4 separate regions of the Homo sapiens genome follow, and regions 2, 3 and 4 are each linked to region 1. Evidence: fine-mapped expression QTL. A gene starts in region 1. Each other region holds a variant in brackets. All regions are shown on one strand. Distances are from middle to middle.

Evidence for each region. PIP is the estimated chance that this variant, and not a neighbour inherited with it, causes the effect. A credible set is the group of variants that fine-mapping cannot tell apart.
Region 2: its variant is the best candidate, but not a certain one, in a credible set for the expression of SH3BGRL3 in whole blood (TOPMed, PIP 0.79).
Region 3: its variant is the best candidate, but not a certain one, in a credible set for the expression of SH3BGRL3 in whole blood (TOPMed, PIP 0.50).
Region 4: its variant is the best candidate, but not a certain one, in a credible set for the expression of SH3BGRL3 in whole blood (TOPMed, PIP 0.57).

What each region holds. Positions count from the first base shown.
Region 1 is chr1:26,275,859-26,283,590 of GRCh38, forward strand. SH3BGRL3 (SH3 domain binding glutamate rich protein like 3) reads left to right here and starts at 4,228. Exons shown (of 3, transcript NM_031286.4): 1 at 4,228-4,345; 2 at 4,907-5,074; 3 at 5,200-5,664. The coding sequence starts at 4,298. The coding sequence ends at 5,265. It overlaps CEP85 (centrosomal protein 85), which reads left to right. Exons shown (of 14, transcript NM_001319944.2): 13 at 677-902; 14 at 1,278-2,950. The coding sequence ends at 1,435. UBXN11 (UBX domain protein 11) reads right to left here. Exons shown (of 15, transcript NM_001389556.1): 13 at 7,006-7,079; 14 at 6,791-6,931; 15 at 6,424-6,711. The coding sequence ends at 6,441. RefSeq lists enhancers at 1-1,198, 3,749-4,636, 4,637-5,523 and silencers at 4,012-4,583, 4,060-4,509.
Region 2 is chr1:26,341,214-26,348,945 of GRCh38, forward strand. It overlaps CRYBG2 (crystallin beta-gamma domain containing 2), which reads right to left. Exons shown (of 20, transcript NM_001039775.4): 2 at 2,532-5,499; 3 at 2,033-2,080; 4 at 1,834-1,946; 5 at 1,541-1,670. The coding sequence starts at 5,444. Among named protein-coding and RNA genes, the nearest start is that of CRYBG2, 9.0 kb to the right of the region's middle. RefSeq lists an enhancer at 5,114-5,867. The variant T/C (reference allele first, on the strand shown) is at 3,343.
Region 3 is chr1:26,207,807-26,215,538 of GRCh38, forward strand. No RefSeq gene overlaps it. Among named protein-coding and RNA genes, the nearest start is that of CATSPER4, 21 kb to the left of the region's middle. The variant C/T (reference allele first, on the strand shown) is at 3,668.
Region 4 is chr1:26,349,666-26,356,282 of GRCh38, forward strand. CRYBG2 (crystallin beta-gamma domain containing 2) reads right to left here and starts at 4,465. Exons shown (of 20, transcript NM_001039775.4): 1 at 4,371-4,465. RefSeq lists an enhancer at 1-550 and a silencer at 1,766-1,964. The variant A/G (reference allele first, on the strand shown) is at 4,091.

The sequences.
Region 1 (7,732 bases):
GAAGGGAAGGAAAGTGGATTAAGCTGTCAGGAAGAGAGGGAAACAGACAGACATACATGAATAGATGGTTTTTGTAATAAAGTCTGACTCCACTGAGGTGAGAGTTTGAAAAGGCAGGACTTGTTCCAGGGCTGGATCCTCCAGGTTCCAGCTTCTCCAGCCCCCCACCTAGTGGCTACTAGCTGTCATATTGTCTTTCTTACTCTCTTTATTCCTCTGACACACTGTGATCAGGCTGGCTGGTGGCCACTTTTGTCAGGGTGGCAGGGAGAGATTGAAACCAGTGTCTCCTCAGATTTCACGGTTCACATTAAGCCTTCTCTAATAGCCTGGCTAACAGAGTTGGCTGAGGGACTGGCTTGAGATAGAGTTCCTAGGGGCGGGAGCATCTTCTCTGGTTCTTGAACAGAAACTTGGATGCTGATGATTCAGAACCAGTTGAGGGTTGGCTTCCTCTCCAGTGCTAGAGCCCTGTGGGCCCAACCTACCCACAGGAAGAACCAGGCCTGATACTGATAGTGGGAGAAGTGCTAAAAGCCTGTTGGCAGGGGTAGGGTTGGGGAAGGAGGGACACTGCCTATGACTCACCCATCCCTTCCACACCCACACACTCATGCACAGATACTCTTCCTCTCCCTGGGCCTGAGTTAATGTGCTTACCCATCTGTCTGCTCAGCTTTCAGTGCAAAACCAGGACTTGATTGAGAAGAATCTGACACTCCAGGAACACCTGCGCCAGGCCCAACCAGGGTCTCCACCTTCACCAGACACGGCCCAGCTGGCACTTGAGCTGCACCAGGAGTTGGCCAGTTGCCTTCAAGATCTGCAGGCTGTCTGTAGCATTGTGACCCAGAGGGCCCAGGGCCATGACCCCAATCTCTCCCTGCTCCTGGGCATTCACTGTGAGTCCTCAGACCAGTCTGGGGCCCAGGAAGGAGGGTCCTTCTTTCTCTTCTCTCCCCCATCCTGCTTTCCCATATTCTTGTGGTAATATGTAGACAGAGTACATAGTCCTGGCCACTGCCCTCTGGACATTTATTTGTTTCACAAAGTAGGTGTTCACAAATCTGTTTTTGGAAACAAGCTATGGGGTACTTGCATGCAGGACAAACTAAAAGTGGACCTTCAGCAGCAAATTAACCCACTGTCCCCAGATGCTTTTTTTAAAGTGCATGTCCCAAGACTGTGGGTTCAAGATACTGCCTATCCATACTGCACCCTCCACATGAAAATGTCTCATAACTAACATTCTCTTGAAATGCTCTTCTCCCCAGCAGCACAGCACCCAGAGACTCAGCTAGATTTGCAGAAGCCAGATGTGATCAAGAGGAAACTAGAAGAGGTTCAACAGCTGCGTCGTGACATTGAGGACTTAAGGACCACCATGTCAGACAGATATGCCCAGGACATGGGAGAAAACTGTGTCACACAGTGAGGAATTCTGGGGGATTCCCCCAGGGAGGAGCTGGGCTGCTGAGAGCCTAGTCCAGCAGGTTTCTGCCCTGACATTCTCTTGTCTGCTATTCCCAGAGAGGTCTCAGAGGGGAGGGGAGAGCCTGCATCTGGGGGCCAAGGGCTGATTAGGGAACTGTGTCCTACCCACACTGGCATGTTGGATTACGTTTGTCCTGTTAATTCACTCTAGACGGTGAGTTACTAATTAACTTTTGGCAGGTACAACAGATAAGTCCTCACAAACTGTTCCCAGCCCTAGGCTGACATGAGAGACGAACAGGCTGTCCACCTTTCTTCTCCATCCAATGGGATGGATCCATGTTCATTCCCACTTCACACCTTGGTCCTGCTGATTAGAGAGCTCATCAGAGGGGCCTGGAAAGGCTGAGCAAGTACCAGTGACAATGGCCATTTAAGAATTCTCAGGCCCCATGTGCCAGCCTTCTTGGGAACTGAGCTGGCTTTCTGGGTTTTCTCATGCCTGGTCTTACTGCTTCTTCCTCAGGGCTCTTGTTCTCCCAGAAGCCTCAGGGTAATGTGTTGGTTAGCACGTAACTACTAGGATTGGGGCCCTAGGGATTATAGCCAGGACTCTAATCTGCCTACCATGCCATTTAACAAGAGATCCCACTCTCCAGCTGCCTTGTGTCCCTAGGGTCCTGGCCATGTGTTTAGTGTGCTAAACTTTCTCCTTTGTTCTCAGGCCTTCCAGGTAGTCCCCTTCCTGGACTTAAGAGTGCAAACTCTTCTCTGTGGTTCTAGCCTTGGGCAGAATTATATCCCAGAGACCACAGAGCAACTGTCAAGCTGCTTACCCCCTCACCCAGGGCTACAGCCTGTGCCCAGCCCTCTAATTTGTGCCTCTCTTGTGTTGGGGGTGGTGGGGGTTATTCCTTTCCCTTTCCTGCTCTGGCCTCCTTGAAAGTTCAGAGTACCCAGTACAAGTCAGCTTTAAAGTACAGCTTTTAGTGTTTCCTGGGTTGTTTCTCTGGGGCTTTAGTGAGGGACCTTTGCCCTCTGGTTTTTCTTGCCTCCTGGTTTAGGGAGCATCTCACACTTGTTAGTATCTGGTTGTTGGGCCAGCCGTGCCTCCTCTAGATCTGGAGCCAGGCCAGGCAGGGGCCACGTGTGGGCCAGTCAGCCACTACAAGATTTTTGCTAAGCTTTGGGCTGTTGGCAGCATCTTGGACCTCATGCCTGGGCCTGAATGAGGCTCTTTCTTAAGTGTTTTTACAAGTTTGTGTTTTATTTATGGAGTGACTTATCCCTTCCATTCAGAGCAGCCCCACCCAGCCAGCCCTTCAGCCTCTGGGCTCCTGCTGCTTAAAGGCAGAGCCGCCTGGTTGGTCTCCACCCTGTGCATTGGGAGCCCAGCCACCATGCTGACGGGTATTTTTCCTCATAAAGTTTATAACCAGTTATTTATATGAATCTTTGTTATGTCCATTTGTTTGTATTGCGTATTTTGATTATAAAATAAAGTATCTTAACAGACTCCTCAGTTTTCCATACCCTTCCATCACCACCACCACGCTATTCTACCCCTCACTTTGGCTTGTTAGAGCCAAACACCTGGGTGTTCAGCCAGGTCCCCCAGGCAGCAGCGTGGAGGAACCTTTGGCAGGTCCAGCCAGCCTCATGTCCCTATCTATCTCTGCCACCTCTGCTCCTCTGTCGTTCTATAGAACCAGATCTCTTCCCACTCACTTTCTCTTGGGCAAACCTTCCCTGAGTCATAACAGAAGTTTGTCACTGGAAAGTTTCAGCAGTCCTCTCAGGAAGTTGGCAGCCTCTGGGTTGCTGTGAGGAAGTGGCTTTACCAGAGCAAGGGTTGTCTTTCTGGGCTGTTAACCTGCCTGAGCCCTGGACCAGGGGGACATCTGAGAAGCATGATGTTGAGTGCCAGACAGCTAGGTCTCCAAAGTTGGGCTCGTTGCTGGAGTCTGCCCCCTCAACCGCTGAATTCTTGCTGGGAGTAGTAGCAGTTTGGGAATGCCATCTGCAGCATGGAGCTGGGGTTGAGCTTGGACCACCCCAAGACCTGGGGTGGATCTTAAGGGTCAGCTTGAGCCTAGGCTCTCGAGTCCTGACATCATCCTCTACCGCCACGCTTTCCAGCTGTCAGCCTTGGTCTCCATCTGGTTCCTTGAGGGTGTGGCCTCTGCGTCCTGCTATCACCCTTCCTTGTCTAAACCTTCCCACCTGAGTGGAGAGGAACTTGGGGGAAAATCTCTAAGCATGGGCTCTTCCTGCTGTCCTATGCTTCCTATCCCCTAGGGTTAGTGGTGCGTGTTGGGTGGTGGAGCGAGGGATCCCTTGGAGCAAGGTTCTTAGAGAACTTTGGGTCTGAAAGCAGCTCAAACCTTCCAAAGCCCCAAGCTTCCCTGTGCTATTAGAGCACCTCCTCCTGGAGAGAGCGGCTCTCGTGGCTGGGGAGTTGGATGCACCAAACCTGTGTGCGGCTGGAGAGGGAGGCTTCTGCCAGACCCTCTCCCGGGCCTGTCCTGCCACCCAGGCCCCTCCCCAGTCTCACACTGAGCTCCAGATCAGGGAAGGGCCGAAAAGGACGATCAGGGCAGCCGCAGAAGGGGCGCCCTGCGTGGGACGGGTCCGTTGCGCGCCTGGTAACCGAGGGGGAAGGGAAGGGGCCTCTGGCGTGCGGGGCGGTGTCGCGCAGGTCCCACCCCGCCTGCCCGCGCCGCCCATTGGTCCCGAGCGCGATGACTTGGCGGGCGGAGCAGGAAGGAAACCGCTCCCGAGCACGGCGGCGGCGTCGTCTCCCGGCAGTGCAGCTGCCGCTACCGCCGCCCTCTGCCCGCCGGCCCGTCTGTCTACCCCCAGCATGAGCGGCCTGCGCGTCTACAGCACGTCGGTCACCGGCTCCCGCGAAGTAAGTGCGCGCCCGGACTGGCGCTGGGGGAAAGCGCAGGGCTGTATCCCGGTGCTTTGGACCCTAGCGCCCGGGACCCACCCCCAGGACGGGGGCGGGGTGGGGGGAGTGCGTCGGCGAGGTGCTGGGCACGGTCTCCCGGACCCGGTCCCGAGGCCCCATCCTGAATGTCTTCATCGGGCATCCTGGGTCCTTTGCAGCCGCGGCATGAACTTCCCGTGCCCATCCCCCATCAACCCCACACCCATTCTCTGCACTCCCACTACCGGGCTGACCCTGACCACGACCGCAGCCTGCCCTCCCCTCCCCTCCCCACCCTGAGCCTGATCCCACTTCCCTTCACTCTGACCCCCTCCCCCGTGGCTGATAATCCCTCTCTTCATCCTGCACCACCTCAAGCCTGACTCATCCTCCCAACTCCTAGAGGCCAGAACCCTCCCCTAGTGTGGAGGGGAATGGGGGGACAAAAGCTCCTGGTCACAGCCTCTCTCACCCTGCCCAGCATTTCCCCCATAAATCCTCCAGCCTATCCACTAACCCCTACCCACCCTCTGTCCCCAGATCAAGTCCCAGCAGAGCGAGGTGACCCGAATCCTGGATGGGAAGCGCATCCAATACCAGCTAGTGGACATCTCCCAGGACAACGCCCTGAGGGATGAGATGCGAGCCTTGGCAGGCAACCCCAAGGCCACCCCACCCCAGATTGTCAACGGGGACCAGTACTGTGGGGTATGGGCTGGGGGACGGGGGGGTGGGGGGAGTGTTGGAAGAGGACTCTAGCCAGGGTCATATCTGCCACAAAGCACTTGGGCCCCCTGCATTCAGGTGACCACCCCTCGCCTCCCCTTCTCCAGGACTATGAGCTCTTCGTGGAGGCTGTGGAACAAAACACGCTGCAGGAGTTCCTGAAGCTGGCTTGAGTCAAGCCTGTCCAGAGTTCCCCTGCTGGACTCCATCACCACACTCCCCCCAGCCTTCACCTGGCCATGAAGGACCTTTTGACCAACTCCCTGTCATTCCTAACCTAACCTTAGAGTCCCTCCCCCAATGCAGGCCACTTCTCCTCCCTCCTCTCTAAATGTAGTCCCCTCTCCTCCATCTAAAGGCAACATTCCTTACCCATTAGTCTCAGAAATTGTCTTAAGCAACAGCCCCAAATGCTGGCTGCCCCCAGCCAAGCATTGGGGCCGCCATCCTGCCTGGCACTGGCTGATGGGCACCTCTGTTGGTTCCATCAGCCAGAGCTCTGCCAAAGGCCCCGCAGTCCCTCTCCCAGGAGGACCCTAGAGGCAATTAAATGATGTCCTGTTCCATTGGCACTGTGTCTGGTTGGTTGTGGCCTGGGCCTCCTGGGTCCCTGCCCTGGGCAAGGTTGGTAGTTGTGACTGTGCTGAGACTGCTCTGTGGGAAGGGTGGCTGAGCTGTTCTCTTGTGACTGTCACCTCTGTGTTTGTTAGTGCATGTGTTTGGATATGTCTGACACACAAATACCTGTATGGACCAGTGGTTTCTGGAGATGTCTGGGTGGGCCACCCTCCAGTTCACATGCATGTGTCCATATCATGCTTGTGCCTTGGTGTGTAGTGCACATCTCCATGCCTGTCAGTGAGTGTGGCCATCCCATGCGCCTGTGTTGGAGCACAATGGCTAAGAATGAGTGTATCATGGGAGGTGGGTACCCAGCTGCAGTTCTGCTAATTTGGGGGCATGGGTCTAGTGGCAAAATGGCTTTGTGCGGTGTTGAAGTGTCCCCACGAGTTGGTGGGTCTGTGCCTGTGCACAGGTATCTGCTGGCTGCACACATACACAGTGAGGCTCTGCTGTCCCAGCTGAGAATGTAAACCCAGCTGGGGCCAGCTCCTTCCCCCCACTGCATCCCTCCCTTCACAGGATCCACTTAGCCCTTCTTGGGAGAAAGAGGAACCTAGAAGACAAAGACCCAGCAGCCAGGCCCGCCAGCCGGGGCTCGAGTTACCAAGGGGCGGGTCGGCACCGCCCCCTCCCTGGCCCAGCTGGTCCCAGGCCTTTCCTACGTGCCTGGCGAGATGGCCCACCCAAGAGCCTGGCGGAGCAGCGGGTTGAGGGGGCGGGTGCTTTATTGGGGGCTGGGACTGGGTCCAGGACAGGGACTGGGGCCGGGACCGGGACCGGGACTGGGGCCGGGACCGGGACCGGGACTGGGGCCGGGACCGGGACCGGGACAGGGACCAGGACTGAATTTCAGGCTGGACTTCGGGGCTCGGCGTGCCCGCAGCAGCAGTGCTGCTTTGGGCACAAGGCCTGCAGCCTGCAGCGTGAGTGTATCGTCCTGGTAGAGGGTGGGCGGGAATGTGCTGAAGATCTCAAAGGCAGAGGCATCCATGACCCTGGGGACCAGGCAGAGCAGATCAGGCTGGGCAGTGGGACCAGAGCCCCTCTGTGGCCCTGGCCCTGCCCTGCACCCACCTGGCCTGCGCTAGCAGAGCTCGCACGTCCCCAATGGTGTTGTCAGGCTGCATCATCAGTAGGAAGGCCTGTTCCCCATTCTCAGACTTGATGCGCAGCATGGAGAGCGGGGGTGCCGGCGTGTTGGGTGACTCCTGGCTCCTGCACAGCCCAGAGGCCATCAGCACGCGGTGACCCAACGCCCCCAGGCCCTCACCTCCTCATCCCGCCCTCACCTCTCTCGCTCAGCGGCCAAGGTGGGCGTCTCCACCACAATCTCCTGGATCCGGGCAGGCAATGGGCAGCAGTTCTGGAAGGTATCAGTGGAGGGTGGACAGAGCCCTAGGCCCCATTTGAGTCATCCCCACAAACCTTAGAGGGACACTTCCTTGACCAGGGACAGATGAGACCAGTGAGCAAAGCGGGAGGGGGTGTTCTGTATAAACCAAGGCCAGAGGAGAGGCAATGGAAGGGGAAGAAGGTTCTGGGAGGCAGCCCCATGGTTCCCCCCAGGTAACCCCCCGTTTCAGTCTAATGGAGACAGAACCCCACACAGACGATGATCAGGCTGGAAGCCCACCCCAGCCTGGGGTCAGGGAAGGCTTCCCTCGGAAAATGACAACTGAGCTGTGACTGAAGGATGAATGGGAGTCCTTAGAAATGGAATGGATGCAGGGATATTCCAGACAGCATCAACAAAGATCCTGGGTTCAGGGAAAGCTTCCTAGAGGTGGCGACACATTTGGGCAACTGCCAGCATTATGTGTGGCTGAAGCTGGGGCTCAATTGGACTGGAAGGAAAAGGTTGGTGTGAGGAGGGGCCTGGCAATATAGGACGGGCCTTGAGTGCCAGCATAAGGAACCTGGCTTTATCTCAAGAACCACTGGAACATTTCAACAGGGAAGGCAGCCTGGAGGATGGTCAGCAGGGGCAGGAGTGGCAGTGGGAGGCAGCTGTCTGGG
Region 2 (7,732 bases), 65 kb after region 1:
GCCTGTGGTCCCAGCTACTTGGGAGGCTGAGGCAGGAGAATCGCGTGAACCCAGGAGGCGGAGGCTGCTGTGAGCCGAGATCATACCACTGCACTCCAGCCTGGGCAACAGAGCGAGACTCTGTCTCAAAAAAAAATAAAAAAATCAAACAAACCAAAAGAACCAAAATGCCTGATAGACACTGCTTTTACAGTCATTGCTCTTCCTTCTCGTGTCAAGCTTAATTTCAGTAGTTTATTACTGTGCGGTGAAAACAATGTTGTTGTTTTCACAGCACAGCACATGAAATTATAATTTTTTTTTACTCTTGTTGCCCAGGCTGGAGTGCAATGGCATGATCTCAGCTCACCGCAACTTCCGCCTCCCGAGTTCAAGCGATTTTCCAGCCTCAGCCTCCTGAGTAGCTGGGATTATAGGCGCCCACCATCAAACCTGGCTAATTTTTGTATTTTTAGTAGAGACAGGGTTTCACCACGTTGGCTGGGCTGGTCTTGAACTCCTGACCTCAGGTGATCCCCCAACTTGGCCTCCCAAAGTGCTGGGATTATAAGCGTGAGCCACTGCGCCTGGCCTTTGAAATTATAATGTTAACTTTTCAAACCACACAGCCCTTCCTCAAAAATTAGAGGTGCCCCTGGCTGGAAATCACAGCCCTTCTTGGTCTCCCTGCCTCCAGGATCCCTCTTTTTTCCACCTGGCAGCCAGTGGGATGTTTATAAATCCCTAGTCTGGCTATATGGCGTCCCTGCTCCAAACCCAATCCTCACAGCCTAGCTTGACTGTAAGTCCTGAAGGGCAAAGAGGAGATCTCCCCCCACTGCCTATTGCCTGGCACCGGTGCCTGGCACATATTAGACATGAGTGAGCATCTGTGAGCAAATGAATGAGCAAACATGCCTGGCACCTCGGGTCTGACTGGGGGCCTGCATGCTGGCTCCTGGGGGGCAGGTAACCCCCACGTTCCCTCCCATCTTGTCTCTGCTGCTCTGTCCCCTTCCTGCTTGAGCATCCACTCAAACTTCCCCAGGCTGCTTTCCCAAGCTGAGCTTGGCCTCTGCCTGGGCCCTGACTCCTCAAGCCAGGCTGCCCATTCCCCAGAATCTCTTTCTTCCCCAGTCAGCTCCACGGTCAAGAATCTATGGACCAGTCCACATTAAGCCCCTCTGCCCACTACCCCATAAGATCTCTGCCAGGAATTTCTTTTGAAACGGAGTCTCACTCTGTTGCCCAGATTGGAGTGCAGTGGTGCAATCCAGGCTTACTGCAACCTCTGCCTCCCGGGTTCAAGTAATTCTCCTGCCTCAGCCTCCTGAGAAGCTGGGATTACAGGCGCATGCCAGCACACTCGGCTAATTTTTGTATTTTTAGTAGAGACGGGGTTTCACATGTTGGCCAGGCTGGTCTCCAACTCCTGTCCTCAGCCGATCCACCTGCCTTGGCTTCCCAAAGTGCTGGCATTACAGGCGTGAGTCACTGCTCCTGGCCTCGGGGATTTCAACTCTAGGCACTCGAGGCCGTCTCCCACCTCCAACTCACTCACCCAGACAACCCTCCTTAGGGAGCCGATGCCTTGGGGACTCCACTTTGTCCCTGGGGTTCTGAGTTCCATGTCTCCTTCAGGCAGGACCAGCTTCTGACCCCGGAACTCTGGCTCTTCGTACAGCACCCAGCTGTGGGCACAGAGATTCCAGGATCACAGATGGGGAGGAGGATGTGCCCAGGGCTGCTGGGTAGCTGATGGGGTTTCTCCCAGGCTGGACTGGTCACTCCTCACTCCCCTCTGCATCCCCCCAGGTTCACAGCCAAGTGCCTTGCTGGGCACTCCCCACTCACCAGCCTCGAACTACCCTTATGGAGGCTACGGGGGCCCAGCCTGAGGCATCAACGATGTCTCCCCAGACCTCCCTGCCACTGCCTTGGCAGCCAGACTCTGAGAAGAAGATCACCTGAGAAGGCACAGAAGGGGTCCTCAGGCCCTGACCCCAGGCCCCTGCATCCTGCTGCCCCCACCCACTTGCCCCCACAACCCTACCTTTCCAGGCCTGGTGTTCAGCTTGCCCTGGGTCTTTAAGGCTGGGCTCTGAAACGGAGGCAGGTGATAAAGAAGTCCTGTGGGGTCACCTCTTTTCTGCCTCCCCACAACCCGCCATTCCAAGGATCCCACATCCTCCCTATTAACCTCCACCCGCAAGGAGCTGGCGCATAGAGGATGCTCACACTTGTTCCCAACCCCCAAGGGCCTCATCACCCTGTCCCAGGAGCTTGGTGCTCATCACCCGCCTTCCTCAGCTCCCAGGATCTTGGAGCCCCCACACCCTTTGGAATCCACAGTACAAACCTCCCACAGTAGGGATAGGGATAGGGAGATTGAGGCCCAGAGAGATGTGGCTTGCACAGGTCAACTGAACCAGACTTCAGACAGAAGCCTCTGCCCCCAGACTCTGACTCCCAGCACCACTCTCTTCACACCACTCAAGCCTTGACCCAGGTGAGGCCAGGCACCTCCCTTGCCCACCCGAGGCCTCACTTACCCACCCCTCCAGGGGCAGGGAACAGGCAAGCTTCTCCGTTGGGGATGATCTTTCACTGCAAAGCAGGGGCAACTGTCCTGGCACCTTCCTGAGCCCCGGTGCCCCATGGGGCAGCAGAGCAGATAGTTTTGTGCCCAGCGGTTCCGGGGTGGAGGCCTCCTTGGCGGTAGGCACCAGACTGCCGAACAGAAGGCTGCCTCCAAGACGGGAAGTGGGCCTGCTGCCTCCCTGCAGTTCCAATCCCAGCTCTGAGTGGGGGCCCTTGGTTCCTGCTACATGCTTCTTCATCATCTCCAGAGGAGAGCAGGAGACCTGGGTGGGTCTGGCAGGGTGGAGGTCCCTGGAGGGGCTGGGCCCAGCTTTCTCCTGCCTGCGCTGGAGCTTCTCATCGTCACTCAGATAGGGGTTCTCTGGTTCCTCCTCCTCCTCCTCCTCTTTCTCTTCCAGTGAAGGCACCTCCTGGGGTCCGGGGCCCAGCACCCATGGCCCCAGCTGGTCCTCCTCAATGGCAGGCAGCGTGGCGTACATGGACAGGTAGGAGGAGCGAGGGGCTCGTGGCAGCCGGTGAGTGCGGAGGATCTCAGGGGGCTCCATGCTCCGCAGCGTATCCAGGAATATCTCCAGGTCAGCGGCCAGGGCCACCTCATCCTCCTCCCTTGATGTCTCTGTGCACGTCTTGCCCTCGGTGGGATCAGAGACAAGCTGGGACTCCGTGCTGGCCTCTGCTCCTGTTGGCACTGGGGCAGGGGTGCCTCCTGGGCTGGGGGACACCCTGTCCACTGAGGAAGATGGGGCAGGGAGAGCATCAGGG[T/C]CCTGCACAACCTCTTTCTGGGTGAGAGATGAGATGGGGCTCCCTTCAGAGTCCTGGACCCCCTTATCCTGTTTGGGGAGTGAGGTGGCAGGAGCAATTGGGCCTTGAACAGTCTCTTCCTTGGTGAGGGGCGGGGCAAGGCTGCCTGCAATACCCTGGACAGCCTCTTTTTGGATGCTACTGCTGCCTTTTGGGCCCTGGACAACCTCAGTTGACTTGGGGGACAAGGCAGCAGGAGCACCAGACCCCTGCACCACCTCCTTCTGGGTGGGAGATGAGGCAGCAGGAGCACAGGGGCCCTTCACAACCTCTTTCTGGGTGGGCGATGAGGCAGCAGGAGCACCAGGGCCCTTCACAACCTCTTTTGGGGTGGTGGACAAGGCAGCAGGAGCACCAGACCCCTGCACCACCTCCTTCTGGGTGGGGGATGAGGCAGCAGGAGCACCAGGGCCCTTCACAACCTCTTTCCAGGTGGGAAATGAGGCATCAGGAGCACCGGGGCCCTTCACGACCTCTTTCCAGGTGGGGAACAAGGCAGCAGGAGCACTGGACCCCTGCACCACCTCCTTCTGGGTGGGAGATGAGGCAGCAGGAGCACCAGGGCCCTTCACGACCTCTTTCCAGGTGGGGGACGAGGCAGCAGAAGCACTGGACCCCTGCACCACCTCCTTCCGGGTGGGAGATGAGGCAGCAGGAGCACCGGGGCCCTTCACGACCTCCCTCTGGGTAAAGGGGAGGACAGGGACATTTTCAGAGTTCTGAACAAACTTATTCCTTGGGGACGATGGAGCAGAAAGACCTCCTGGGCTGGGGACATCCTTCCTTCTTGTAGTGGATGGAGCAGGAGGTTGTCCAGGGACTGTCACATGCTCGCTCCTCACCATGGGCAGGACGGTGGCAGCAGGGGGGTCCACGGGCCCGTCCTTTTTTTTAGGGGGCAGAACAAGGGGAGTGAGCCGGGCCCCGGGGTGAGTGGGCACCACAGGCTGCTTTGCAGGGTGAGTTAGGCCAGGAGAGGGGACATGGGTCTCGAGTCTGGGAGAGGAGGGGACTGATGCTTGACCCTGAGAAGTCTGGAGAGGGAGCTCAGTGGAACTGGGGGCTCCCAGCACCTGCCAGAGCTCACAGGCCCTGGCATCCGGGGCTCTGCCCTGGTCTCTGTCCGGACAGGCTGCAGGGGCATCCTGATTCTTAGGCAGGTGAGCACTGGCTGGGATGCCTGTAGAGGCCAGGGCAGAGCTGTCTTTAAGCTCTGCTGTCCCGGTCTCAGGCAGCTGCCTCAAGGCTGCCCCCACTGTGCTGCCCAGACCTGTGCTCCTTGGCCCGCCAGCCGTGGGCCTGGGCAGGTGACTGGCAGGGGGGCTGTGCCCAGCAGGCACGAGGTTACTTAGCACTTTCACGGCCTGGCTGCGGCTGGGCGAGCCTGGTGGGGAGCCCACCACCACTGGCGGCACCATGCGGGAGACCTGACGGCCCCGTGGCAGGGCCTCGCCTGAGGACACTGGCCTCACAGTCACAGAGCTGCTCATCCGCCGGTCCACATGACCTCCCACCACTGTGGTGGTCCGCACAGTGCGTGTCACTCGGTATTCCTCGAGGCTCCGGGAGCTACCACTGGTGAGACCTACACCTGGGTGGGGACTTGGCTCTCGGGGCCCAGGCAGGGGAACCAAAAGCTCAGTCCTGGCCATAGCTCCCACACATGGGGGCTCAGTCCTGGGAGCTTGGCGGCTGCCATCACTCTGGTCCACAGCCTCCTTCAGCCTCCCCTCAGGCCTTTTCTCCTTGGGAGGTGGTATGTACTTCTTGGAAAAGATGGGTCCATGGCTCTGGAAGTTCTTGGAGCCAGCTGTATCCCGAGGGCCCTGGCAATTCACAGTCTCTTCTTCCTGTGTTGCAAAGCCATTGACTTCCACTTCCTCTCGACGGCTGAACTCAAACATCTCCTTCTGCGGGGCTTCCATCTGGGCCCCTGACACCAGGGACACCTTGTGAAAACCATGTTTGATCTCTTCCTGGGTGGGGGGCCGCTGCCGCCATGTCAATGTGGCACTTACCACTCGGGCCTTGGCCCGGGCCATGGGCCCACCTGCCTCCTCCATGTGGGGCCCTGGCAACCTGTCTGGAGGTGTCCTTGTCCCACTGTGGTCCAGCTCCCTGCAGAGGAATAAGAAAGATGAGGGTCAGAGGGTGGTGAGAGTGGCTTCCTAAAGTGCAGAATAACCACCCCTACCCAAGTCAGGCTGGGAACCTCAGGCAAATCGCTTGGCCTTTTTGGGCCATTGCTTTCTCATCTGTGAAATGGGCATGGTAGTCTCAGCTCTGATTTGGTTGATCAGAGCCCCTCATCCATCCCTCTCCCTGACTTTCAGGTGATCTCCTAGGTCAGGGTCCTTCAAAGGTGAAGCTGAGGCCTGAGCCCAGAAGGAGAGAAAAGGAAGAAGGCAGAAGGGAAGATGCAGCTGACCCACAGGTCTATAGGGGGGCTGGGACTCTGCCCACAGAGCCCTAGGTCTAGTCCCCCAGGAGCTGAAAACTAGAAAGCCGAAAACTGGGCAAGCGTTGTTCTAACTCTGTTCAGGGAAGATGGGCTTTGGCCTCAAGCAGAGCTGGGTTCCTTAGTTGCTCACTAACTGGCCATTTCTTCTGTTCAAGCATCAGGGTCCTCAGCCACAAAACTGGAGTCTTGCCAGAGTCCAGTAAGAGAAACAATGAAACCTCCCCCTGCGTTTTTTTTTTTTTTTTTTTTTTTTTGTGAGACAGAATCTCACTCTGTTACCCAGGCTGGAGTGCAGTGGTATGATCTTAGCTCACTGCAGCCTTGAACTCCTGGGCTCAAGTGATCCTCCTGCCTCAGCCTCCCAAGTAGCTGGGACTACAGGCACACGCCGCCACACCCAGCTAGTTTTTATTTATTTATTTATTTTTATTTTTATTTATTTATTTTTTTTGAGACAGAGTCTCGCTCTGTCACCTAGGCTGGAGTGCAGTGGCATGATCTCGGCTCACTGCAAGCTCCACATCCCTGGTTCACGCCATTCTCCTGCCTCAGCCTCCCCAAGTAGCTGGGACTACAGGTGCCCTCCACCACGCCCAGATAATTTTTTTGTATTTTTTGTAGAGACGGGGTTTCGCCGTGTTAGCCAGGATGGTCTTGATCTCCTGACCTCATGATCCACCCGTCTTGGCCTCCCAAAGTGCTCGGATTACAAGTGTGAGCCACCGTGCCCAGCCCCAGCTAGTTTTTATTTTGTACTTTGAGGTCTTGTTATGTTGCCCATGCTGGTCTCGAACTCCTGGGCTGAAGTGATCCTCCCACCTTGGCCTTCCAAAATGTTGGGATTATGGATATATGCCACTACTGTGCCTGGCCTAACTTTTTATCTTTTTATTTTAATTTATTTTATAAGACTGAGTCTTGCTCTGTTGCCCAGGTTGAAGTGCAGTAGCTCACTGTAGCCTTGAACTCCTGGGCTGAAGTGATCCTTCTGCGTTAACTCTCCAAGTAATTGGGACTACAGGCACATGCCACCACACCCAAAATGCTCGCCTTATAACCTAAATTGCTGGCTCATCAACTTTCTGCTGTCACCTTGGAGATTTGTGACCAAATGTTAGCTGGTGTGCACACGTGTGTATGGGCATGAGCACCTGCTGATGGTCTCCAGAGCACAGGGGCAGGTCTGTGTGCAAGTGTAGGTCTAAATGGAGCCTCTCAGAGCTGGATGCAGTGGCTCACACCTGTAATCCCAGAACTTTGGGAGGCAGAGGTGGGAGGATTGCTTGAGGCCAGCAGTTCTAGACCAGCCTAGGTGACATAAAAAGACTCTACAAGTCTCTACAAAAAATTAAAAGAATTAGCCAGCATGGTGGTGTGTGCCTGTAGCCCTAGCTACCCTGGAGGCTGAGGTGGGAGGATCACTTGAGCCCAGGCTGCAATGAGCTATGATCGTGTCACTGCACTCCAGCCTGAGTGACAGAGAGATCTTATCGCTAAGAAAAGTTATCATTATTTTTTGAGACAGAGTCTCGCTCTGTCGCCCAGGCTGGAGTGCAGTGGCACGATCTCAGCCTACTGCAACCTCCTCCTCCCAGGTTCAAGCGATTCTCCTGCCTCAGCCTCCCGAGTAGCTGGGATTACAGGCATGTGCCACCATGCCCAGCTAATTTTTGTATTTTTAGTAGAGATGGGGTTTCACTATGTTGCCCAGGCTGGTCTCAAACTCCTGACCTCAAGTGATCCACCCGCCTTGGCCTCCCAAAGTGCTGGGATTATAGACGTGAGCCACTGCGCCCGGCCTAAAAAAAGTTTTTAATAAAAACAAAAATAAGGCTGGGTGCGGTGGCTCACGCCTGTAATCCCAGCACTTTGGGAGGCCGAGGCAGGCCG
Region 3 (7,732 bases), 68 kb before region 1:
AAACTGCCAAGAATGCAAAAACAGCACATCAGGTGATGGGCCTATTTCTGCCCATTACCCAGGGGAAAGAAGAAGGTTTCCAAGGAATCCAGCCCAACATAATTGATTTGGGCCTTTCTAGAGAGAGCAGCTGGCTCAACCATGAGAATAAAGCTGTGTTTTTGTAAGGCAGTGCAGTGTGGTAGGGAAGGCATTGGGTTCTGGTGTCTGATGGACTTTGTTTCAAATGCAGTGGCACCACTTCCTGGCTGTGTGACCTTGGACAGATGTCTTCACCTGTCTGATCCTCAGTTTCTTCATTTGATAAATGGAAATAATAGTCCTTTTCTACAGGTTGGTTGTAAGGATTTAATGTGCCTGTGCATTGGAGCAGCACCTTACCTGGGCAGGGTGACACTTGAACAATATCAAAATGATCCTTGACTGCTATGACACTCAATGAAACACTCGGCTTGCAGTTAGGGGTCATATTGTTCAAAAAATTCATATCTTTAGGCCGGGCACAGTGGCTCATCCCTGTAATCCCAGCACTTTGGGAGGCTGAGACAAGCAGATCACTTGAGGTCAGGAGTTTGAGACCAGCCTGGGCAACATGGTAAAACCCTGTCTCTACTAAAAATACAAAAATTAGCCAGGCATGGTGGCTCATGTCTGTAGTCCCAGCTGCTCAGGAGTCTGAGGCAAGAAAATGGCTTGAACCCGGGAAGCTGAGGTTGCAGTGAGCTGAGATTACACCATTGCACTCCAGCCTGGGTGACAGAGCGAGATTCTGTCTCAAAAAAGAAAAAAATCGTATCTTTAAATACTAGAATCATATTCAATGCAGTAGGAAACTAATATCAAACAAGGCATCAAGAAATCAAACACCAATTGAGATAACAGATTTCTGTCTTTTACTGACTTGCACTGTCTAGAGTAGCCATTGAGTGGAATGAGACATAGTTACCTGCACAAGTAAAATTCTCTCTCCCTGGTATACATCTGTTGAAATCTATTGGCACAGAGCTGGCACATAAATGTGAGCTGGTAAGATTTACATATGTATGTAAATCAACACCCACTACATTATATATAATATATATTTATATATGTATATATAATATATATTTATATGTATATATAATATATATTTATATGTATATATATTTTATATATATAATTTTATTTTAGAGATAGGGTCTCACTTCGTCATCCAGGCTGGAGTGCAGTGGCACAATCAGAGCTTGCTATAACCTTAGATTCCCGGGCTTAATCAATCCTCCCGCCTCAGCCTCCCAAAGTGCTGAGATTATAGGCGTGAGCCACTGTGCACGACCTGATATTATTTTTAGGGAGTCTCCCAGTAAGAATATTTGACAAGTCATAACATCTGAAAATAACTCTGGTTTGGTGGAAGGAACAGGTAGATTGCTTTCTCTTTTATTATTTATTTATCTATTTATTTATTTTGAGATGGAGTTTCTCTCTGTCACCCAGGCTGGAGCACGGTGGCATGATCTCAGCTCACTGCAACCTCTGCCTCCCAGGTTCAAGTGATTCTCCTGACTTAGCCTCCCAAGTAGCTGGGACTACAGGCATGGGACACCACACCTGGCTAATTTTTTTTTTTTTCAGTAGATATGGGGTTTCACCATGTTGGCCCGGCTGATCTCGAACTCCTGACCTCATGATCTGCCCACCTCAGCCTCCCAAAGTGCTGGGATTACAGGCATGAGCTACCATGCCCGGCCTCTTTTTTTAATTTTTATTTTTCTCTACTTAGATGGGGTCTCGCTATGTTGAGCAGGCTGGTCTCAAACTCCTGCCCTCAAGTATTCCTCCCATCTCGGTCTCCCAAAGTGCTGGGATTATAGGCATGAGTCACAATACCCAGTCTAGATTACCTTCTGTTTATTTGTTTTTTCACAGGCAGTGTTACAATCTGGGGAGTTGTGTCAAAAACAATACACTCCACAGAAGACTCTGCACCTGAGGAAATTATATTGTGTTCATCTACAACTTCAACTCTGTTTAACAAAGGGAAAGACAATGTCTCTCCAGCTGTACTTAACAGTTCACCAACAACTGACAAGACATCAACATCTGAGTCCCAGAAGCATACAACACCAGCTGCTCCTCCAACCTCTCCACAAACAGCAGCTCTAATGGGTCCACTGAGCAGACAACTTCAATACAAAAAACTCAGGAAGAGAAATTAAACACAACTATCAGCACAACCTCCAAGGGTACACTGCTGCCAAATTCCATCATGACTTCTACATTGAAGGACCAGGGAGGGATATCAAGAACCACAGCTTTATCCAGCACGGCCTCTTCAGTTGAGACCCCAAAACAGAATCAGGAAACTCCAATTATAACTCCATCAGCATCAAACACCACAGTCAATGGGACACAATCATCAGTGTCCATTGGCTTTCAGGAATCAGACACAATCACATCCCCAACAGCACTGAACACACCAGGCAGTGATGTTCAATCATCTGGGTCCATGGCAACCACTGTCTCTGGGAAGTCAGCTATAACTACATCCCCAACAGCAAAGAGCACGCCAGGCCATCATGTTCAATCATCCGGGTCCATGGCAACCACTGTCTCTGGGAAGTCAGCTATAACTACATCCCCAACAGCACTGAACAAAACCACTGGCATAAAAGAATCTTCACCCATGACAGCCAGCGAAGTTATGCACACTACCTTGCTAAACACAACCACTCTCGGGACAACTCTTCTTGGAACAACTACATCTGAGACTCAGGAAGGAAAAACTACAGCTGCATCCTTATCCCCAACAACCACCTCCATGATAAGCAAGTTGTCTGGAACACATCATAACACAGTCTCACAGACACCTTCCCATCTGGCAGAATCAACCTCCAGTGTTGCCACTGCTATAATCCAGTCACATGAGATGACAGCTGCTCATTCCACAGGCCTTCTCCCCAGGTCCTCGGAAACAACAAAATCCTCTGCTGTAACTGGGGCCAGTCAAACCTCCCCTAAACACACCCAGAGTAGTGGTCCCAGAGTTGGAGCCTGTGCTTTGGATGAGTATGCAGGTAGCAGGGGAGTTTGTATGTGCAATGACAGCTACTACTTCCACGCGGGTAAGTCTGAGGAACTCATGTGAGTAAAACAAAGAAGAGGTGGGGGCCAGAGTGGACACCATAATTCTGTGAAGTCTCAAAGGGTCCAAAGGGTATGAGAGGGCCAGTGAAGTTTGGTAAGACGTTGGCATCTTCTGAGTCCACCTGGGTAGAGGTGATTTCTGGTGGGAAGACAGGCAGCTGGGCATATGGGATAGAGTGCACAATTTTTCAGCTCCAGCCCCCAGGACTCTAGCTACTGTCCAGAGATGAAACTTTCCTGGGGGAAGGAGCTGCACCAAAGACAAGAACTGTAGTTCCAGCGGAGGCCTGGAAGGCCAGGTGGAAAAACTAAGGCAAAAGTCTGACTGTTGGGGCAAGTCAGTGTGGCAGATATTACAGAAAGGCTGAGTTCACAGGGCCTCCGACAGGCAGTGCCACAAACTCCCAGATCCATCCTCTGCAGGCCTGAAGCTGGGTCTAAGACAGCAAAAAGATAATAATATCCCCCAAACATATGTTCTTCACGGTTGAAATAATTCTAACCTCTCCTCCCCCAAGCATTTAAATTTAACAAGTCTGGG[C/T]GCAGTGACTCATGCCCGTAATCCCAGCACTTTGGGAGGCTGAGATGGGAGGATCACTTGAGGGTGGGAGCTCAAGATCAGCCTGGGCAACCTAGTGGGATCCCATCTCTACCTTTTTTTTTTTTTTTTTTTTTGAGACGGAGTGTCATTCTGTCGCCAGGCTGGAGTGCAGTGGTGCAATCTTGGCTCACTGCAACCTCCGACTCCCTGGTTCAAGCGATTCTCCTGCCTCAGCCTCCCAAGTAGCTGGGATTACAGGCACGTGCCACCATGCCTAGATAATTTTTGTATTTTTAGTAGAGAGGGGGTTTCACCATATTGGCCAGGATGGTCTCAATCTCTTGACCTTGTGATCCATCCGCCTCAGCCTCCCAAAGTGCTGGCATTACAGGCGTGAGCCACTGCGCCAGACCCCTGTCTCTATTTTCAATAAAATATAATAAAATATACTTAACAAAATTCTGCTTTTCCTAAAATGACTATTGTGTCTTTTTTTAAAAAAATCTAATTCCTTTAAAAAATATTTCTTTGGCATTCCTGCCTTGGTCTATTGGGTAGTCCTGCCTTGGGATGAAGCTTTTGTTACATGCAAAACCGGCAGTGCTTAACTTATGGGTCACTGTTTTCCAAAATGTATTTCCTGGGACACCAGTGCTATGTGATTGCAATAGACATTTCACTTAAAAAAAAAAGTTCTATTGTCATATACATTTGGGAAATGCTGGATTCAACAAAATTGTGTCTCGACTGAAGAACTTTTCAGAGCCTTTAATATTCCACTGTTTCCTGTGACTTCCTAGCAGCAGATTATAGCATATATTTCCTAAGATTATTTGTTCCTAGAATCCTCATTCTAAGGAATGTTCATGCAGCACCTTGGGATATCTATTGCAGAGCAGGGGAGCTAAGCAGGGCTGTGCAAGGTAGAAGTCCAATCCAGGTGGTTTTTAGTCAAGCCTTGAGGCAGATGCTGGCCCATTAGAGGGTTGTCACTACCTCAGCAGACTCTCAGTAAAACCAGGGTTATGTGCCAACTTGTACATGCTGCATGTGCCCCTCCACAGAAAATATGACGTACATCATCGAGTTTTTACACATTGAGAATGAGACAGCTTTTCCTTTTGTGTTATTTCTTTCCCCCTGTGGGTAAGAAGAACATGGGCTCTGCCAGATAAACTGGGTTTGAACTGTGTCTCATTTTCTTTCGCTAGGTATACGACTGCATTTACCTACCAGCTATTATTAATATGATTTGGCACTTTGTATCACAATATACGATTGACTGCAATTGACTGCAACAACAGAATGTTACGTGACTGACAAACTCCCCCTCCTCTCAACAATACGCATTGATGAATATAAAGCATCTGCTCTTTTTTTTGTTTTGTTTTTTTGAGACAGGGTCTTGCTCTGTTGCCCAGGCTGGGGTGCAGTGGCGTGATCACAGATCACTGCAGCTTGGACCTGCTGGGTTGAAGCAATCATCTCACCTCAGCCACTTGAGTAGCTGCAACTACAGGTGCACACCACCACACCCAGCTAATTTTTAAAATTTTTCGTAGAGATGGGGTCTCACTATGTTGCTCAGGATGGTCTTGAAGTCCTGGGTTCAAGTGATCCTGCCACCTCAGGCTCCTAAAATGCTAGGATTATAGGCGTGAACCACTGCACCTAGCAGCATCTGCTCTTAAGTTACAGCTCATCCCTCTGACCAAATATGCCTGCCAAAATAGAAACAGTAAACTTTAAAAAAAGAAAGAAAATTATATTTAAATTCAAAGTAATAAAACAAGTCCAGAAGTGTTTTGCATTGGTATTTCCATTATGTTTTACTTTTTACCATTATTATTATTATTTTATTATTTTTAGGACAGGATCTCACTCTGTCACTTAGACTGGAGTATAGTGGCATAATTATAGCTCACTGCAGCCTCAAACTACTGGGCTCAAGTGGTCCTCCTGCCTCAGCCTCTCCAGTAGCGGGGACTACACCTGGCTACTTTTCTTTTTCTTTTTTGTAGGGACAAGGCTCTTGCTATTGCCCAGGCTGGTGTCAAATTCCTGGCCTTAAGCAATCCTTCTGCCTCGGCCTTCCAAAGTGCTGGGATTACAGGCATGAGCCACTGTGTCCAGCCAGTTTTCCATTTTTTTTTTTTTTTTTTTTTTTTGAGACAGGGTCTTGCTCTGTGGCCCAGGCTGGAGAGCAGTGGCACAATCACAGCTCACTGCAGTCTCGACCTCAGGGGCTCAAGCGATCCTGCCACTTCAGCCTTCTGAGTAAATGGGACTATAGGCACATGCCACCATGCCTGGCTAATTTTAATTTTTTTTTTTTTTTTTTTGGTAGAAAGGGAATCTCCCCATGTTGCCTAGCCTGCTCTTCAATGCCTGGATGCAAGCGATCCTCCCGCCTTGGGCTCCCAAAGTTAACTTTTTTTTTTTTTTTTTTTTTTTTTTTTAAGACGGAGTCTTGCTCTGTCGCCCTGGCTGGAGTGCAGTGGTGCAATCTCGGCTCACTGCAAGCTCTGCCTCCCGGGTTCACGCCATTCTCCTGCCTCAGCCTCTCTGAGTAGCTGGGACTACAGGCGCCCACCACCACTCCCGGCTAATTTTTTGTATTTTTAGTAGAGACGGGGTTTCACCGTGGTGTCGATCTCCTGACCTCGTGATCCACCTGCCTCGGCCTCCCAAAGTACTGGGATTACAAGCGTGAGCCACCGCGCCCGGCCATAACTTTACTTTTAAATTACTAACTTTTAAGCAGTTCATTCAAAATTCAATAGAAAGTATGAAGAGAGCAGATGCAAAAAGAAGGGAAGGTTAAGTATTAGCTTCTCATTCATCACTCAAATAGCACTGGTATTTGGCATGTATCAGTTAGGATACTTTGTGTTGCAAGTAGCAGAAACCCAACTCTAATTGGCTTGAGTAAAATACATAAATGTTTTTTAAAAATTGAAAACATGAGCCTAGCCAACATAGGGAGACCCTGTCTCTACCAAAAATATTGAAATGAGCCAGTGTGATGGCATGCACCTGTAGTCCCAACTACTTGGAAGCAGGTGGGAGGATCACTTGAGCCTAGGACTTTCAGGCTGTAGTGAGCCAAGAGTATGCCACTGCATTTCAGCCTGGGTGACAGAGAGAGACCCTTACTCAAAAAAAAAAAAAAAAAAAAAAAAAAAGGAAAACATGAGGCCAGGCGCAGTGTCTCACGCCTGTAATCCCAGCACTTTGGGAGGCCAAGGTGGGTGGATTGCTTGAGTCCAGGAATTTGAGACCAGCCTGAGTAACATGGCGAAACCCCATCTCTACAAAAAATACAAAAATTAGCCAGGCATGGTGGCATGCCTGTAGTCCCAGCTACTCAGGAGGCTGAGGTGGGAGGATCACTTGAGCCCAGGAGGTGGATATTGCAGTGAGCCAAGATTACACTCCAGCTTGGGCGACAGAGTGAGATCCATCTCCAAAAAAAAAAAAAAAAAAAAAAAGAAAAGAAAAAGAAAACATGAAACAAAATAAAACAAACTTTGTTGGCTCATGAAACTGGACCTGCAGACTCTGAAGCCCCTCCCTCCAGGTTCTCAAGCACCCCCATCCTTCCCTCAGGGCTCTCTTCCATGAGTTTAGACTTCTCCAGACTGAAAGAGTCATTGACTCCAAGCAGTCTAGGCCCCTCGAAAAAACTACAAGGCCTGGCTTCCAGATTGGAATAGGAGGAAAATCACAGAGAACTTAACAAATTAATATCTCAAAAAATAATCTTGCCAGACAAGTAACAGAAACCAAGTGGGCTAAAGAAAAACAGTGTCTCACGGAGGCCAAGGGCAGGCTCCAGCCAGGTTCTCCAAGGACTGGAACTGGATCTGGGAATGTAGTGGGAACCAGGGGGCTGCTTCTCTCTCCACTCAGTCTTGCTCCTCCCATTCCACACCTGCACCCACTCTGTCCCTCCCACCTCCCAGCCCACATGACAGAAGACGACCACCTCACCTCTCAAGCTTTATGCTGCCTCCTTTGAGGCCCAGTTCCTAATTTCTGGGAAAGAGATTCTGAGTGGATCAG
Region 4 (6,617 bases), 73 kb after region 1:
AATGTGGTAATATTGAGAGGTGGGGCCTCTAAGCAGTGATTGGGTTATGAGGGCTATGCCTCATGAATGGATTAATATACTCATGGATTAATAGATTAATGGTTTAATGGATTAATGAGTGATCATGGGAGTAGGACTAGAGGCTTTTTTTTTTTTTTTTTTTTTTTGAGACAGGGTTTTGCTCTGTTGCCCAGGCTGGAGTGCAGTGGCACAATCTCAGCTTACTGCAACCTCTGCCTCCTGGGCCCAAACAGTCCTCCCACCTCAGCCCACCGAGTAGCTGGGACTACAAGCCTGCACCGCTATGCCTGGCTAATTTTTGTATTTTTTGTAGAGTTGGGGTTTCACTATGTTGCCCAGTCTGGTCTCAAACTCCTGAGCCTAAGAGATCTGCCCACCTCCGCCTCCCACAGTGCTGGGATTACAGGTGTGAGCCATTGTGCCTGACCGGACCAGTGGTTTTATAGGAAGAGGAAGGGACACCTGAACTAGCACCTCAGCCCCACTGCCATGTGATGCTCTGAGCCCCCTCGGGACTCTGCAGAGAATCACCAACAAGGTTCTTACCAGATGCACCCCCTTGACCTTGGGCTTCCAGGTTCAGGTATTCCATTATAAGCAACAGAAAATAGACTAAGCTCCCTAGGAACTCTCAGGTGAATTTCTCTGTTTTACTAGTTGCAACAACAACAAAAACAGCCATTTGGGGAGGGCTGACTCTGCCAAACACCTTGCTAAGTGCTTTAGATTCATTGTCCCATTGAAGCCTCAGAAGAATCCCAGGAGCTTGAGACCTCATAAAGAATAAATTATTAATAAATTAGATCATACCTTCCCATTTTGCAGATGAGATTTTTTAAATGCTCAGAGAGGTTAAGAAACTTGTCCAAAGTCACAGAGTAACCGAAACAAGACTTGAACCCCAACCCTAAGTGCTCACTCACCATACCAAACTCCCTAATATATGTATCCTATAACTGAGTCTCTGGTTTGGGGGTTTACATTTACAGGGAGCCATGTCAGTCCTGGAGGGCGTCTCCACCCCCACTCCCTGACTTCCAAGCTACACTGACCAGGGCAATCCTATTCTTAGGCCCCACGAACCCCAGAGAGGCCAGCCTGTTCAGCCCGAGTCTTTGGGCCTTCTCCATGAGGTACCCTCCCCTCCCCAAGAGACCTGACTCTGGGCAGGAAATGGACCCACTGCCCCCACTCCCCTCCCCCATTTCCCATTGTCCTCCTTCCTGAGAAGCTGGTGGAATTCAGAACTTTGACCCTTCCCTGTGGCCACAGCAGTGACTCAGGCTTTATGAGGGGCAGAGATGAAAGAGACTGAAGCCCCGGGAAGCCTGACCTGACTCCAGGACTGCTGGTGGCTATGACAGTGTCAGGGACAGGGTCCAAGGGGGACTGGAAGGTGGAGGGGTTAGGTAGAGCCCTGGTCATTTTCCCAGGCCAGGGCTTCCTGAGAGCAGTACACAGCCAGACACCAAAGGCTCTGGATTTTAGCCTCTCACTGAGGCCCCAGCCCACTCCCCTGTCCCCATTAGGGAGCTCCCTTTTTCCTCATGCAACCCCTGCCCTCCTCGCTGGGACTCTGCCCAAATGAAGTTTGACGCCCTCGCTGAGCACCTCCTAAGCCCCTGTCCACCTGCCTTCCACTCTCCGAGCTTCCTTGTCTCTGATGGTGCTTATAGTAAGTGGCAAAGCTTGAGCTCTAACTCATTCATTCATTCATTCAATTACTCACTCATTCAGTGCTAATTGTATCAAGGGATGTGCTAGGCCTTGGCTAGACTCAACCAGAACCAGAGCCAACTTTCTCATGAAAGGTGGCATATTAAGAAGCCAGGGGCCAAGGAATTAGACATAAAAACAGGGACATTTGGAAAGCGCCATAGGCATCAGGAAAGCGACAGGAGAGCAATGTTAAAGGAGGCGGCCGATCATGAGATCAGATATTGTCGATGACCTCCTACCAATCAGAATTTAACGTCTTTCTCAACCAGCCCAACCCCTGGACAACACCCCTGATAGCCAGTCATTCCACAAGCATGTGGTCATTGGCTTCTGCCTGCATACCTCCAGGGACAGGGAGGTCACCACTCGACAGTTCACCTGCCCCGTCCCTGAACAGTCATGAGTGCTAGAATGTCCTTCAGACTCTGCTGGAATGTGCCTGCCTATAGATGCCCCCTTTTGTCCTTGCTCTGAAGACATACCCCAATACAATGACCCAGGATGCCTCTCCTGGGCCAGCAGAAGGGGCCATTCCCAGAGCCCTTTCTTCTGCAGGGCCCCAGACCAGAAGTGGATTTGTTGGCAGCGTGACCTGTGACCTCCAAACAAGGCGTGTGGAGCTGGGAAGGGAGAGGCTGAGGAGGGGGCGGGGGGAGTGTGGGAAAGAGCCTTGTCTAACCCAACAAGTCCTGGATTCTCCCCACTTACCTGTGAGTCACCCCCAAACTAGGCCAAACCAGTCCACAGGCCCACATGCAGGCAAACACATGCTGTGTCACACAGACGCAGGCACAGACACACAGACAGATACCGACACAGACCCACAATCACACAGGCACAAAGATACACCTAGAAGCCTATAAAAACATACACAACCAGGGACACACACACAAATATACACTCACCCAAGAAATACAAACACGCACAGGCACTCAGAGCCACAACAGACACACAAATCACATACAGACAGAAACACAGGCACAGTGACACACACGTGCACACATTCACAATACACACACAGTCAATTCACAGCCCCAAGCTCTCTTCCCCTTGAAATTCACCTACCCCTGAACGTGGACACACACGCTTGGATGCACACGTATCTTACACATTCCCACTGGCAGTCCCAGCTATGTCTCACTTCTTCTCGACTCCCATATTTGCCAATCTTGGCCCAGAGAACCTTCTCCCAGGAAGGGGACATAGAAGGATGATGTTTCTGGAGGTCACCTGCCCCCCACTCTAAGTGAGCCCTAGCCTCCCACCTGAGTCTGTCATTATCCACCTGGGCCCAAAATACCCAGGTAGTGGCAGATAGAAACCACCTCCCCCCAGCTAACCCTACTTCTCTTTCCCGTCCCCCTCTCCAAGGTAGCCTCCTCCACCCCCCTTCCCTCTCTCTGCAGCCCTTGTCCCCCAGCCCCTGACTTCTGGGGCATCCAAGCAGGTCTCAGAGCCAGCCTGGGTCCTACATCTCCCTCTTCCTTGGCACGGAAGCAGTCACATTGACCCCTGCTTGGAGGACCCCAGCATTCCTGATTCTGCCTCTGCTACTACAATGCTGCCCAATCCACCGCCATAGGAGCCTAGAAAACCCTGGAGCCCACACAGCAACCTCACTCAACCCTCCACTCTCTGCACAGGGCCAAAGAGGTTTCTTCCAGGCAGGATGGAGCAGTGGTTAGAGCACAGGCACTGGAGTTATAGAAACCTAAGTTCAGATTCTAGCCCCTTCACTTTCTAGTTGACTTTGAGCAAGTGACTTTCAGAGCCTCCTAGAATTAGGTGACAGGGGTTGGGATCAGTCCCTACTCATGGGATGGTTGGGAAGATTAAATAAAATTATGCTTAGAAAACAAATTGCAAATGACAGCCACCCCATCATCCTTAAGCACCCTTCAAAACCCCACCCCAGGCTCATTTCCTCTTCAGGGTCATCCCTGGGAGGTTCCATGTTCATCCCTCCTTGATGAGCTTTGGGGGACATATCCTTCCACCTCTGCGCCCCCCAGGCAGATTTAGGAGAGTCATTTCAACACAAATAAAACTAGGCTTGGGAAACTCGACACCCACTCCTTTGGCTTCCAGCTCAGAGCCAGGTGGGGTAATTATTGCTGTCACTGAGACGTAATTAATAAGCATCCCTGCTATTTTGGCACCCCCAGTCTCTGGAGTTCAAAGTATATTCCTGTAGCCACCTCCTCCTTCCTCATTTTCAGCTACCAAATCCTCTCAACAACTCAAGGCCCAGAGAGGTTAAGCAACTCGCCTCAGGACACCCAGCACCTAGGCTGGGTGCCAATTCCCAGGCTGAGTCTGTGGCCTCCTGAACAGAACTGGGGAGTGGTGT[A/G]TGCTGTGAAGAAGGCAACCCCCCTTCCTGCCCATCCTCTCCCTGACAGACTTTCCCCTTTCTCAGATGGACAGTGGGGGTGAGAAGCAGTGGGTTCCAGGAGGTAGCCTGTGGGCAAAGGGAGGGAGAGGAAGGCAGGGTTGGAGCAGGGAGGGAAGGCAGAGTCGGCTCAGGGTCCTGAATGAATGGGCCTAGAGCTGGAGAGGCCCAGGGAATAGGCAAAGTCTCAAGACAGGGCAGCCAGGCCAGTCTCCCCTCCCATCTCCACACACAGACCGACCTCTACTCACAGTCTGCGTGGGGACCCAGGTGTCCAGCCAGCCTGGAGCTCCTGCTGCTGGGCCGTGCTCCCCTGATGCGATTGGGCTCTCAGCTGGGGTTCCTGAGGCGGGGCCGTCCGGCACCCTGTGATGGGGCGTGGCCCCTGGGGAGGCTCCCACCAGCCCTCAGATTCCTCAGGGCCGCAGAGGTGTGGAGCTGGTTGGGCCGGTTCTTCACCCTCCTCCCCTGGTGCTTGCCTGTGCCCCAGCAGGGTGACAGTGATGTAGTAGCGGGTCCTCCTGGAAGAGGGACGCGTGTGTAGGGTCTGGGCAGGCTCTGGCAAGGCAGTCCCTGGGGTGGCGGGCTTGCCCTTTGTCCCCTCTGCCCTGGGGAAGGATGCAGGGTGGAGCAGCAGGGGTGCGTCTTCCAGGTTGCTGGGTGGCTCAGGCCTCAGAGGGACCTCTGAAGCTGTGGGTGGAGACTGCTGACAGGTGCAGCCTGAGGATCCCTGCTCCCCATGTCCAGGAGCAGGCCCTGGGTATTGGGGGAGCCTGGTACGAGCAGACTCTCCTGAGGCCACTTCCAGGGCCAGGCTCTCAGGCCCCAGGGAGGCATGGCTGGCCAGGTCGAAGGCGCTGCCCACCGCTGGCCTCTGTAGGCGCCCCAGGGACTGAGCAGGACCCCCCGAGATTCCTTGTTGCTTCCAAATCCAGAAATCATCATGGTCCCCTACATGGATGTCCCATTCTGAGCAGCTCTGGCCTTGGGCCTGGGTGAAAACAGAGATAGACACTGAGAGAGGCAGGGGCATAGTGACAGCTCCCCCTGCCCTCCAGGCACCCCTGGTACCTGGTATCTTCCCTGTCACAAGGAAGCTGAACAGGGCTCTGACACCAAGGTAAGCTGCCCTAGGGAGAGGCTGCTAAGGCCACCAGAGCTGGACAAAGGGACAGAGCTCTGGGAAGGCCCTTCAGCATTTAACTCACCCCTTCCCATTCTACGTAAGAGGAAAGTGGGGCCCAAAGAAGACGGCGACATGACTGAGATCACACAGCAAGCCAGCGAGGGCTCCCAACGCTCAGGTGCCGCACTCCCTCCCAGGTGACAAGGCACCCAGGGCCTGGCCGGCCATGCCCCCCAAAGGCTGGAGATCTCAGCTTCCTTGCAGTCCTGAGGTGCTTCCCCGCCCTGGGGCTGAGGGCTGGGTGGGAAGGCCTGCCTCAAGTGCCCATGGCCTCTGCCCATTCCAAGCTAACAGAGAGACTGCGGCCACCTCTCTTGTACCCTCCCAGCTTGAGACAGAACACCTGGGAGGATGTACCTGGGATATAAGGGAGCCAGAGAAGAGGGTTCCCCTGAAATGGGACAACACCTGACCTCTTCTGCTGTCTTCCCCTGGGGTCCAGCCTGGCTGTGGGGATAAGAGGAGAGGGCTCAGCACCCCAGACCCAGATGGACACTGCCCCCAAAACGACCCGTTTTAAAAGATGGGCTGTTTCCTTGGCAACAGAGGAGGTCAAAATTCCGCCTAGCAGGGATCCTTGCTGCCAAATGCCTTAATTTACTCATCTATGAAACAGATGCAGCCTCTCATTCCCCAGGGGCTGACCACCTCAAGAGACAAGAGTACAGTGATGAACCTGGAGGCTTGGATCGAGGCAACCTGGGCTTGAATCTCCGCCCTGCTGCTTCCTATAATAGCTGCAGTACCGTTTGTATTTCAGTTTCCTCATGTGGAAAATGGGTGTGATAATAACAGTACCTGCCTCCTGAGAGTGTGGTACAGATGGTACAAGATAGTCCATGCAGAGGGCCCAACACATGACAAGTAGGCAATTAAACACTGGCAATTACTCATGGTATTCAAGACCCAAGAGAGACACATGGCTGCTTGAGCCACCTCCAGAGGAGGCTGCCCTCACTCCTCCAAGGGAAGAACACTTTTTCACTGTTCAATTCAGGGCTCAGGTCCTTACTGCAGATGAGGAAACTGGGGCAGGAGGTTAAGCCACTAGCCCAGCCTCACCCCTGAGGGGCCATGCCAGGAAGTGGGGAAGAGGGACCAAAGATGGAAGGCGGTCAGGCCAAAGAAGAGAATGGAGAGAAGCGAGGCCCCTCTGCCCCTACATCCCTCCCCAGAAGATCCCAGCTTTAGGAAGTCACATTTCCTGAAAGTCCGGGCCCCAACCATGCGGGATGTCCCATATCCATTACTTTATCTCCCACAACAGCCTTGAGAGTGGAGCATTATTGTCCCCATTTTGCA